Linked DNA regions of Homo sapiens. The protein of the gene in region 1 purifies or fractionates together with the protein of each later gene. This does not show direct contact. Each region holds a gene or a part of one and is shown in the gene's direction. Other genes may lie near its edges.

The links. The genes of interacting proteins can lie anywhere in the genome.
Region 2: the proteins of IARS1 (region 1) and MAP4 fractionate together in Homo sapiens (co-fractionation; 2 studies listed by BioGRID). This does not show direct contact.

What each region holds. Positions count from the first base shown.
Region 1 is NC_000009.12:92,209,689-92,213,710, reverse strand, and holds the end of IARS1 (isoleucine--tRNA ligase, cytoplasmic), read left to right. Parts: intron 1-2,821; coding exon 2,822-2,904; 3' UTR 2,905-3,504; downstream 3,505-4,022. UniProt on the Homo sapiens protein: Catalyzes the specific attachment of an amino acid to its cognate tRNA in a 2 step reaction: the amino acid (AA) is first activated by ATP to form AA-AMP and then transferred to the acceptor end of the tRNA.
Region 2 is NC_000003.12:48,013,386-48,021,015, reverse strand, and holds the start of MAP4 (microtubule-associated protein 4), read left to right. Parts: upstream 1-4,599; 5' UTR 4,600-4,682; exon of another isoform or gene 4,683-4,695; intron 4,696-7,498; exon of another isoform or gene 7,499-7,541; intron 7,542-7,630. UniProt on the Homo sapiens protein: Non-neuronal microtubule-associated protein. Promotes microtubule assembly.

The sequences.
Region 1 (4,022 bases):
TTTCTGTGGCTGCTGCAACAAATTTCCACAAATGGGATGGCTCAAGTCATCTCACAGCTCTGGAGGCCAGACACTGAAATTAGGGTGTCAGAAAGGCCACAGTCTCTCTGAAGGCTCTGTGGGAGAATTCCTTATATACTTCTTCTAGCTTATGGTGGCGCCAGGCATCCCTTGACTTGTGGCCACATCACTTCAGTCTCTGACTCCGTGGTCACATTGCCTCCTTCTCTTCTGTTTCCTCTTTTTCCAAATAAAGTGAACATTCACAGCTCCTGGGAATTTAGAACCTGGGCATATCTTTGGAAGGCCATTATTAACCGATTACATTCTCTTCACTTTTTCTCTTGTGGTGAAGGAACTTACTCAAATTAACCCTTTTGCTATGGGTTTCTTATTTGAAGTTCCAGTTTCTTCAGCAGAGATTTGTTGGACTTCCCGGTTTGTATATACCGGAGGCTTTTCTTTCCCTGCTTTCCTAGCTCTTTAGTGCCAAAAGCATTAAGCCACCAGACCCCATGGGAGTCATTATTTTTGGCCTCTGTGTAATTCTCCCGTTTTCTTCCTGTGCAGCTTTTTTTTTTAAATTTAGTTGCATATCGTACTTTTAAATTTTCTGTCATGATGTTAAATACTAAAGCTCTATTTCTTCTTGGGTTCCTCCTTCCCTCCCTGGGTTTATTTTCAGTGACTCTCCTTTGTCGTTTTCCCTCTCATCTCATCATTGGGCCTCATCATCCATCTAAGTCACCAGTCTGCAGTCTGTACTCTTCACCAGAGCTATCTTCATGAACATTCCTGCCTTGATTTTGTTCCCTTGCTTAGAGCCCCCAAAGCTCCTTATTCTCTTATGCCTCAGAATCTTCCCTTCCACACAAGATCCTTCCTGCTCTGGGCCTTCCCTGTCTTGCTAATTCTGTCCATGAGTCTTTCACTCTATCAAAGGCTTTTTTCACTCTCCCTCGAACACACTTGGCTCTTTCATTGTGGTATGGTAGTAAAGATCATCTAATAATGTAGCTTTCTATTTTGATAAGCTTATATAAAACTTTAGAGATAATTCTTAACTCTTCTTGTCCCTCAAATCCTTTGGTCACCAAGTACTGTTGTGCAGTGGAGCTGAAGATGACATTTATCTCTCACTTGTTCTTGCAAGCAAATGCAGTGGCATGATTGAACCTGGTCAGGGGTAGAACCATGTCTGTATGAATTATGTATTTATAATACTACCTGCAATTCACAGAACCATTCTTAACCTGTGCTGCCTTTCTGTATTCTCTTTACTCTGTGACGTTAGTTAGGCAAAAGTTTAGTGGGTGAGAACTTTTAAATGTTTAGTGATTTATCTAAGATTACCACAAAGTTGGAACTTTTTCTAATTCAGTATCTTTCCAATCTAGTATCTATAGCTTCGTTTTCATTATGCCTTTTCTCTCAGAATTGTCTTTCATAAAGTATCAATAACTTGGTAAATTAGAAGAGCCACAAAATGTTGACCATTTTAGAAACCCTTAGATGTCTTCTTGCTTGCTCCACTAAACTCTAAACATCATCTCCAGGTCCTGTAATTATCTATTAAGGAAGTAGCTTTGAGAGTATTCTCACATCTAGGATTGCTGCTAGGTAGGACAAGAGCTATTTTTAAAGGAAGCTCATCTGTTTGCTTTAAATTCAGATCTGACTAGAAGCAAAATGCTCCACAGTAGGCAGATAACTTTAAATTTTCTTTTTTTTTGTTTTTGAGTTGTATATTCAGTATATTTCAATCAATTGCATTTGGGTTATATTTTTGGATGCTCAGAGTTTTCGTCATTGGCCATATTGGATCCTGTATTCTTTAACATGATCCTTTGTCTTTGGTAAATTCTTGCTTTCTCACGTAGCAACATGTCCTAGGCTTATTATGTACTTTTACTTCTCCAGACGTAGAAAATAGCTGTTCTTCAAATTATAGAGAATCATATTTTGAAACCACATATCTGGGATACTGAGTTGGCACAGCCTCTAGGCTTTTTTTGTAGACATAGGAAGTATCTGTGTATGAGGAAAAATAACCATCTTGGCAGTACCCAGAGTTAGCCAAACTGTGAAGTGATGGCATAGTCCTCCAGAAGGCTCCAGGAGTCTGCCCGATATCTAACTCCACCTGCAAGGAGTGAGGATTCTACTCAGGGAAAGATCCACACAAGACCCCCATCACTGCTGGCACCAACTGCAAGTTCCAGGGATTTTCCTAAACCACCCTCAGGTTCAGTAACCTGCTAGGAGGACTCAGACTCACTAAAAGGTATTACACTCATGGTTTGAATTAGGGTAGGGAAAGGATACACGTTAGAACCAGCGAGAGTGAGAGAGAGAGAGAGACCCTGGAGTCATGGATAATGTTTCTTCCTCTCATCCCTTACATCTGACAACACAGAGACTATATTACCAACCAGGGAAGCTCACTCGAGCCTTGGTGTCCAGTTTCTGTTGAGGTTTCATTCTGTAGGCATGATTGCTGTCTTTCTCAACTGATATACCATGTGACCCAAAGTCCCCATCCTAAATCATATACTTGGTCTTTCTGTCCTGGCCAGCACTACCCTGAATTGTCTCATTAGCAACAACTGTCAGGTTTGGTGAACATACCCACCATGAGAAACAAAGATTCCTACCAGGAAATTCCAAGGATTTAGAGGTTCACCTCAGGAGCTGGGACAAAAGGCAGAACTCTTAGGATAAGGCCAAATTCCTTACTACACAAGCAGTTAACATTTTTTTAAATATTCACCCCCAATAGGTAAAATACTGATTTTTTTTCAACTTTTTCTTTCCATTCTAGAAATTACAGAAGACATCCCCGTGAAGACTTTGAATATGAAGACTGTGTATGTTTCTGTGTTACCAACAACAGCAGACTTCTAGCATGTACTTATCAATGTTGTTCGGTCAGCCCTTCCCTAATTACACCTATCCCCTACACATACATGCACATAGACACACACATGAACACACTGAAGATATTTCCTTCAGGTGTGTGTAAAATATGCTGCTTGGATTGAAATTCAAATGGGATTGATTAGTCAAGTAACTTGAGACCTCACAGTAATCTTCACACTTAACCTTAGACACCTATGCAGTCATGTTGGGAGCAGGTTACAATGTTACTTCAGCCCACAGTTTATTTCTATACTTGAGTTCTTAAGTACAGAAGATAGAAGTGATTTAAATGGCATAGTATATATATCATTTTCTGGCCTTTTAAAATTTATTTGAGACCTCTTGATGAAATGGACATATTATATATTTCTGCCACCTGGATTTTCCTGGATAATTTGATGGAATATTTTAAGTTTCAGTAAATCAGAACAATAAACAAACTCAGATATAAATGTGTTGAAAGTAATTCATTCTCCCATAGATAAATGAAACTTGAAATGTGTAAACTTTGAAGAACATAAAAACTTCATGGTGGTTTCTTATTAAGACAGTGGACTAGACATCTAATAAAACTTCTTTCCAAAATCCCAGGTGATAATTTGAGTCCTCAGAGAAGCAGATGACATGACAAAGTTAGATGTGCAAGAATTTATTAGAGGAAACATAAATGGAGGATAAACGGGAGATGGAGCAAGCGTAGGTCGAGAGAGCCTTCAGACTGCAGTGTGGGTCTGACACCTGTAAAAAGAGAAAATGAAGATTGATTAGCAAAAACTTAGACTGCAGTGCAACTCTAAGATGAAGTCTTGGTCAGGCCAATGGAGAGTTCCCAAGCAAGGATTCCTTTTAGTAGAGTTCAGAATTGGGCAGAAATAGCCTGGCTTTGTTTCTCTGACTTCCTCAAGTCAGTTTCTGGGAGGAGACCAAGGGGAGCGTGGCCTTCGCACAAATGCCTTGATGGATCTGAAAGTACCAACTACACTCCTCATGTCAGATTCTTTTGAAGGGAGATCTGAATGATACATCCCTATGGCTACTACAACAGATGCATTCACACAAAAACCCACAAGTTGGAGAAAATAGAGGAAACAACCAGAACTTGG
Region 2 (7,630 bases), on another chromosome or scaffold:
ATTTCTCTGTGTCATGATTACCCTTACTGCAAGAAAACCAACAACACTGAGATTTTTGGTGCAGTAGCACATGCTTCTAGTCTCAGCTACCTGGGAGGTTGAGGCTGGAGGATCGCTTGAGCCCAGGAGCTTGAAGCTGTAGTGTACAATGAGCACACCTGTGACTAGCCAATGCACTCCAGCCTGGGCAACATAGTGTGACTTGTCTCTAAAAAAAACAAAACAACAACAACAAATAATACTCATATTGCTTAACCCTGTCCCTGAACAATTCTGATCCAGCGTGTTTTTTTTGTTTTTTTAATACTTTTAATTCAGATTTTTACTTGTATTTCAGGTAAAATATTAAAAGTTATGTTACTAATAACTTGAAAGATCTCTTCAACTTTTGCTGTTCAATTTTCATTTAATAATGATATTCCCCCCCTCCTTTTTGAAAGCATCTGTAAGATATTAGGTCAAAGTAAGGCCTTTGCCACGACTACAAAATGCTTGTTAAGTACTCCCATAGAGTTTGTATCTTCTCCTTCTTGCTCAGAAAAGCTGAGCTACTCTACCCTTAGTCGTGCCTAGAACCAATACTTAGAAGAACTATGAGGGTGCTTCCAGCTGTGCAAACATCAACCCCAGCAAGAGAAGGCTGGTATGGTATGGAGCAGAGCGCACCTAGCAGGACAAATGTGCATTTAATGAGAGCCTGTGAGGTTTCAAGTTTATTATATTTAGATGTCCAGGATAAAAGGTGAGAAAGATGCTATCCTAGCCATCGAGGAACTCAAGCGTTAAGGGGAACTCTGGGTGGGACACACATTGTAAATAAACAATTACAAGGGTGGGCATGGTGGCTCACACCTGTAATCCCAACACTTTGGGAGGCTGAGGCAGGCGAATCACTTGAGGTCAGGAGTTCAAGACCAGCCTGACTAACATGGTGAAACCCTGTCTCTACTAAAAATACAAAAATCTCCGTCTCAAAAACCCCACAAAAAACAAAACAAAACAAAAATTATAGAATTGGCAGCACAAATTCCTATGTCCTCTTCTACCTTCCACTTTTCTTTATTTTCACTGATATAAAATAGAGTGAAACTTCACTTTGCTTAATGGGAGAAGTTTTTCTTTTGTTATCTATTATTTTCAAGACAGGGCCTCACTCTGTAGCCCAGGCTGGAGTGCAGTGGTGCTATCACGGCTCACTGCAGCCTTGAACTTCCTCTGCTGAAGTGATCCGTCCACCTCAGCCTCCCAAGAGCTGGGACCACAGGTGTGCAGGCTAATTTTAAAATGTTTTCTGTGGAGACGCAGTCTCAACTGTGTTGCCCAGGCTGGTCTTGTACTCTTGGGCTCAAGCAGTTTTCCTGCCTCAGCCTTCCAGAATGTTGGGATTATAGGCATGAACCACCATGCCCAGCCAAAAGAGAGTTTTTTCTTTAATAAAATAGTTCTCAAAAGCTAAGAGCTGATCAAGTATGAATATTCTTCCTTTCTTCCAATCTCCTCAGCACTAAGTCATCCTAAAGTTACATGATATGCTTATTACTTTCTGACAGATATATGAGCTGATAACTATAGAGATTTAATATTTTAATAATTATAAAGTTTTAATATTTATATGATCATATTAACATGATGGTAGTGGCTGATATCTTTCTCTCTTTCTCTCTCTGTCCCTCAGAGATGTGGTCTCACTTTCTCGCCCAGACTGGAGTACAGTGTTGTAATCATAGCTCACTGCATCCTCAAGCTCCTGGGCTCAAGGAATCCTACTGCCTCAGCCTCCTGAGAGGCTGGCACTACAGGCACACACCACCATGCCCAGCTAATTAAAAACATTTTTTTTTGTAGAGATGGTGTCTTGCCATCTTGCCCAGGCTAGTCTTGAATTCCTGGGCTCAAGTGGTCTTCCTGCTTTGGCCTCCCAGAGTTCTGGGATTACAGGTGTGAGTCACCATGCCAGGCCAGTAACTGGTCGACCATCTTGAATATTTGTTTTTGCCACATTGCATCATGTCATGCTTTTCTAAAAGCAGAGAGAGCTATTTTTATTGCTATGCCTAATAATGATAAGATGACCAGCATGGAGAGCTGGTTCGTACGGTTACTCCTTACTGGCTTTCTTTCTATAATTCCAGACAACATGCTTGCTCTTGTACAAACTGTGTTTAGAAAGTGGAAGAAAATAGGTGAATATTCTTTTTTATTTTTATTTTTTTGAGACAGAGTCTCACTCTGTCACCCAGGCTGGAGTGCAGTGACACGATCTTGGCTCACTGCAACCTCCACCTCCCAGGTTCAAGTGATTCTCCTGCCTCAGCCTCTCGAGTAGCTGGGACTACAGGTGCACACCACCACGCCCGGCTAATTTTTGTATTTTTAGTAGAGAGGGGTTTCACCTTGTTGGCCAGGATGGTCTCAATCTCTTGACCTCATAATCCACCCACCTCAGCCTCCCAAAGTGCTGAGTGCTGGGATTACAAGCATGAGCCACCACACCTAGCCAAGGTGAATATTTGTAATTGGTGATAACCTTTCAGCCTTGAATCTGTTTATTCTTTTTCTAGTTGTGAAGAGTTTTTGTAATTTTGGAACTTCTGATTAATTTCAAATTAGATTCAATTTCTAATAACTTTCATCGTGTCATTTTAGAAATGTGTTTTTAGCCCCTTGTTTTGTTGGTTTTTATCATTTTGGCCTGTCTCCTCTGTAGTCTACTAGGAACAGAGAAGGTGTGCACATCACTTTGATGTGGTCCTCTCTTCTGGGACCCAGCAGTTTACAGGAGCTGGTATATACAACTAACTACAGTGGGGGGTCCCCAACCCTCGGTCTGTAGATTGGTACCAGTCCATGGCCAGTTAGGAACTGGGCTGCACGGCAGGAGGTGAGCAGCAGGTGAACAGCATTACATTAACTTTGCGATAAGTGTGCCTGAGTTCTGCCTTCTGTCAGATCAGCAGTGGTTTTAGATTATCATAGGAGCGCAAACCCTATTGTGAACTGCACATGCGATGGATCTAGGTTGCATGCTCCTGTGAGAATCTAATGACTGATGATCGGAGGTGGAAGAGTTTCATCCCGAAACCATCTCCTCCCTCTCACCCCTCCTGCTATCTGTGGAAAAATTGTTTTCCACGAAACCTGTCCCTGGTGCCAAAAGGTTTGGGGACCACTGAACTACAGTATAGATCAGACTCTACTGTTACAAGTACAGATGATGTATTAGTTCTGAATACTACTGGGAGAAAGATTCTAAAAAGCAGTCACAGAAAAGGTGGTAAGACAATTTATGTGGACCTTGATTTCAAGACTTTCACAAATGAGGAGGGAGAGAAGATAACTTCAAGTTTGGAGAGCAAATGAGCATAGGGTGTACAGTGATAATGTAAGATGGTAGATGGTCCCATGTGACTAAATTGTAGGGAGACCCTACATGGAAAGCTGCTGATGATTATGGTGGGTGATAGGACTGAGTCTTGTCAGTCAGCCTTGATATTACACGTAAGAGTTTGGATTTACAAAAAAAAAAAAAAAGAAAAAAGAAAAAGACATCTAGGCATTGGGGTCCCTTTAAAGATCAGGTGGAATGTTTTCCTGATGTTCAGGATTCTTCCTGCCTGCCTCCCTCCTTGCAGAAGAAAAGATAGGTAGGTATAAGTAGTAGGTAGGTAAAGGTATGTATAAGCAGGTATAATTCAAAAGGTATATGAAGTACAGCGAAGTCATTGTGTTAGATAAAAGCAGAAACTACAAAACTGTAAGGTTTTGCTTATTTTGTCACGCTCTGCTTCTGTTTTTGGTGTTCTGTGGCTCTTTTCGCCGATCCTTTGTCTCAGCCTCATTTGTAAGTGACTTGTTTTTTCCATTTCTCATTTTTTTTTCCATCTATTAAAGTGAGGGGATTGGATCCTAGATCAGTTCAACTGGTGTAAGCCTTTAGAGCCAGGCATGGTGGCTCATGCCTGTAATCCCAGCACTTTGGGAGGCCAAGATGGGTGGATCACTTGAGGCCAGGAGTTTGAGACCAGTCTGGCCAACATGATGAAACCTCGTCTCTACTGAAGATACAAAAATTAGCCAGGCATGGTGGTGTGCATGCCTGCAATCGCAGCTACTCAGGAGGCTGAGTTAGGAGAATCACTTGAACCCAGGAGGCGGAGGTTGTAGTGAGCTGAGATCATGCCACTGCATTCTCCAGCCTGGGCAACAGGCCAAGACCCTGTCTCAAAAAAAAAAAAAATGCCTTTAGAATGTGGTTAGAAATAATTTTTGGATTGGTATAGATTAACTCTGAATGTTTTCCTGTGTTAGAGGAAGGAAGTGGGATAAATGTAAAGTTTAAAAAAAATGCTCCTTTTTCAAAATTTTGAGGGGTTAGGTATTAAGAATCTTTTAAAGTTTTACTCATTTAAAAAATTTAGATAAAATGGAAGATTCATTCTTAAGGTTGGTGATATCAGAAATGTAAGTGCTGTGTCATTGTCATTTCTTATTTTGGCCTACATAACCGTAACCAGACTTCAGACATCATGCTGCCTGTATCACATGGCTAACAGTGGGAGGTATCTGGTGTGTTCTTCCTGGAGAAATAGATTGAAATTCATTTGGACAGAAATGTTGAAGGCAGGTGCCTGATCCAAAATGCATTTAGTCAGGACTGAACACAAGCTGCCTGGATAGTTCCTGTAAGTAAGCAAGGTAGCCTTTTAACTTTGTGATGCAAGGTTTTATGTATGTGAGTATGTGTGTGCAAGTGTATACAGTATTTTTATATCCAGAGAACAGGGCTCCCTTAAATGGGGGGTGGGGGGGACTCTGGTAACTACATGAAAGTAAAATATAACTTCTTTAAACCTATATCAGTGTGTTCTTTCATGTAGGAATGTAGCTGTGTGATGGCCTCAGCTATTCTAGTAATCAAGGGCTCTCTGCTGTTGCTAATCCTATGATGAACAGGACAAATGGTGGTTACGAACAGAACCCTGTCAAGCCTGGAAATTCCATCAGTTTGTAATAGCACAGCTGTTGTCCTTGAACTGTGTAGGGAGGAACCTAGGGGTGGACAGTTAATATATTCTTCAGGGGGGTTGTAGTTTATTGCTCAGGATAGTCAAGATCTTCCTCAGTTGTCTGTTGCTATCTGCAAGTCTGGTTTGGAGGAGAAGCAGGAGAAATTCAGATTTGTCTGAGGAATCATATGTGTCTGTGAACTGTGTAAGTTGGTAGTTGATTCCTGTAGACATCCTTGCTAAAGATTTATTTTTAAGTAAAATATCATTTTGCTTGAAAGTATAAATCAAGGTTTTGTGGTTAAATAAATTAAAAACAGCACAGCTGCCAGACAAAGTTCAGCTTGATGTATAACAGGCCTCTGAAAGAAGTTCAGTAAGAAACAAATCTGGGTAATAAAGTTAATTAGTAACTAAAAACCTGCTAGGCATACTAAAAAAAAATCTGATGTTGAATATTAAATTATTATGAAGCAGGCTATACCTGTATCCATCAAGATTATAAATGATCTCCCACACTGGCGACGTGGGGTTCCTTTCAAGCCTGAGGAATGAGCACTATATTTTGGCCACAGCATTCTCACTAATGTCCTAGGATAGCAGCTTAGTGTTGGCTTTAGAATTCTCTGTCATTTAAATGTCATGCAAAAACAAACGTATAAAAGAAAACATTAACCCAGATATCTTTATGGTTCCTTGTCTTGTCCATAACCGCCCCCGCCCCCACCCACCCAAAAAGGACAGGCTATCAGTTATAGAGAAAATATAAGTGAGCATTATAAGCAGTATCCTACCTTTAGTAATAATTATTTAAAGTTTATTAAATGGGTTGTTTGGAACTCAAAATGATTTGCCTCAAAGTAGCCTAGGTCACTGAGAAGAAAGTTTATTTCTTTCTGCTGAAACTGACAGGAGGCGATATTTTGAAAGATAGCAAGCTTGTCTTTGGCATGGTATTAACTCCCTTTCTTTTGCCTCCTAGGGCTCCTGGGCCTGTATACCCTTTCCCTACTTTGATACCATATCTATATCTGCTTTATTCCCTGAAAGTTCCCATGTTGCCATAATATTTTTCTTCCTTTTTCACACCAGAACCAAGAACTCAGACATCTTCAATAGAACCATCTCTGGGATGAACAATGGTCTTTCCAGGGATGTACATTTTCTTACCCACTTTTAAATTAAGAAATAGGATTCTATACTTTTAAAAAGAGAATGCTGGCTACTGCAAATGAATGTCGGTAGAAATTTGGCTAATGTGACACAGTAAAATGAAGGTTTCCTAACACAGTGGTTAGGAAAAGTGAGTATGATGGTGGGAATCAGGCTTCTGTTCTTGCTTTTTTTTTTTGAGTCAGGGTTTCACTCTGTTGCCCACGCCGGAGTGCAGTGGTGCAATAGTGGCTCACTGCAGCCTCAACCTCCTGGGCTCAATCAGTCCTCCCACCTCAGCCTCCTGAGTAGCAGGGACTACAGGCATGTGCCACCATGCCTGGCTAATTTTTACATGTTTTTGTAGAGATGGGGTTTTGCCATTTTGCCCAAGCTCTGTTCTAGCTTTTCATGAGTTTTTTCCCTGCATTTTAGCTCCCATAGTAGCACCTTTCAAGGGGTGAATAGAAGAGGACAGAGACAGCAACAGGCCATTGGTAAACCAGATTGCCAATTTCTCATCAGACAGAATGAGCACAGACCCCGAGTGAGTGGCTCTAGATGCGAATGACCTAAAATTTTCAGGAGGACTTCATGGAGCTTAAAAGGTTCTTCAGAACTTCTGTGTAATTAAGTTAGATATTAACACTGTTTAATCTGTATAGACCTGTAAAATATTTTTAGTACAGTAATTAATTCCAGAGTTTGTGAACTATCCAAAGTAAAGCATACAACAAAGTACTGTGGCCTCATCATATATCCTTATTTCCTGTTTATGAGCACCTAGCTCTTAATAGTGAGATTGTAGTCAAGAGAGTATTTTATCATCATGCCATGTAGTTGCCTCTTGCCTTAGTTTACCTATTTTAAAAAACCCGGCTCACTAATAGTTTCACTTCAGGCATGTCATCAGAATGAAAGATCAGATATACAAAGTGCTGTGCTTGAAAACTGTGTGTTCCCTTAGTGCCTGGTTAGATAATACAGGGCTTATTTTCTGGCAGAGTGGTGTTGAGTCTCCTTTGATGTTAGCCAGAACTGGGTGGAGTTTCTTAAGCTCCAGTCAGATTGGCTCAAGCAGGGCACCATGCAGTGGTGAATTTGTTTTCAGTCCCTCCCTTTGCCAAAAAGCTTTTTTTTTTTTTTTTAATAAACCTCAACCCAATTATAAATGAGAATACTTGATATATGAAATAATATGAAATGATAGTTGTTCATATTCACACTGAGGGTCTTAGGGGGTTTATTTATAGCTAACTGAAATGATGCAGCTGAATTACAAGTAGCTGATAGAATAATCAACCTCAGTAAACATTTAACATAACACTCTCATTTTACAGATTAGAGAACTCAGCCCTGAAAGGTGACTCATTCAAGGCCACAGTGAGTGTCAGATTAAACTGGTGCTTCAGTAAAGCATACAGACTTCTGTACCCAGCTTTCAAATTCTCTTGACTCTTACTCACAAATCT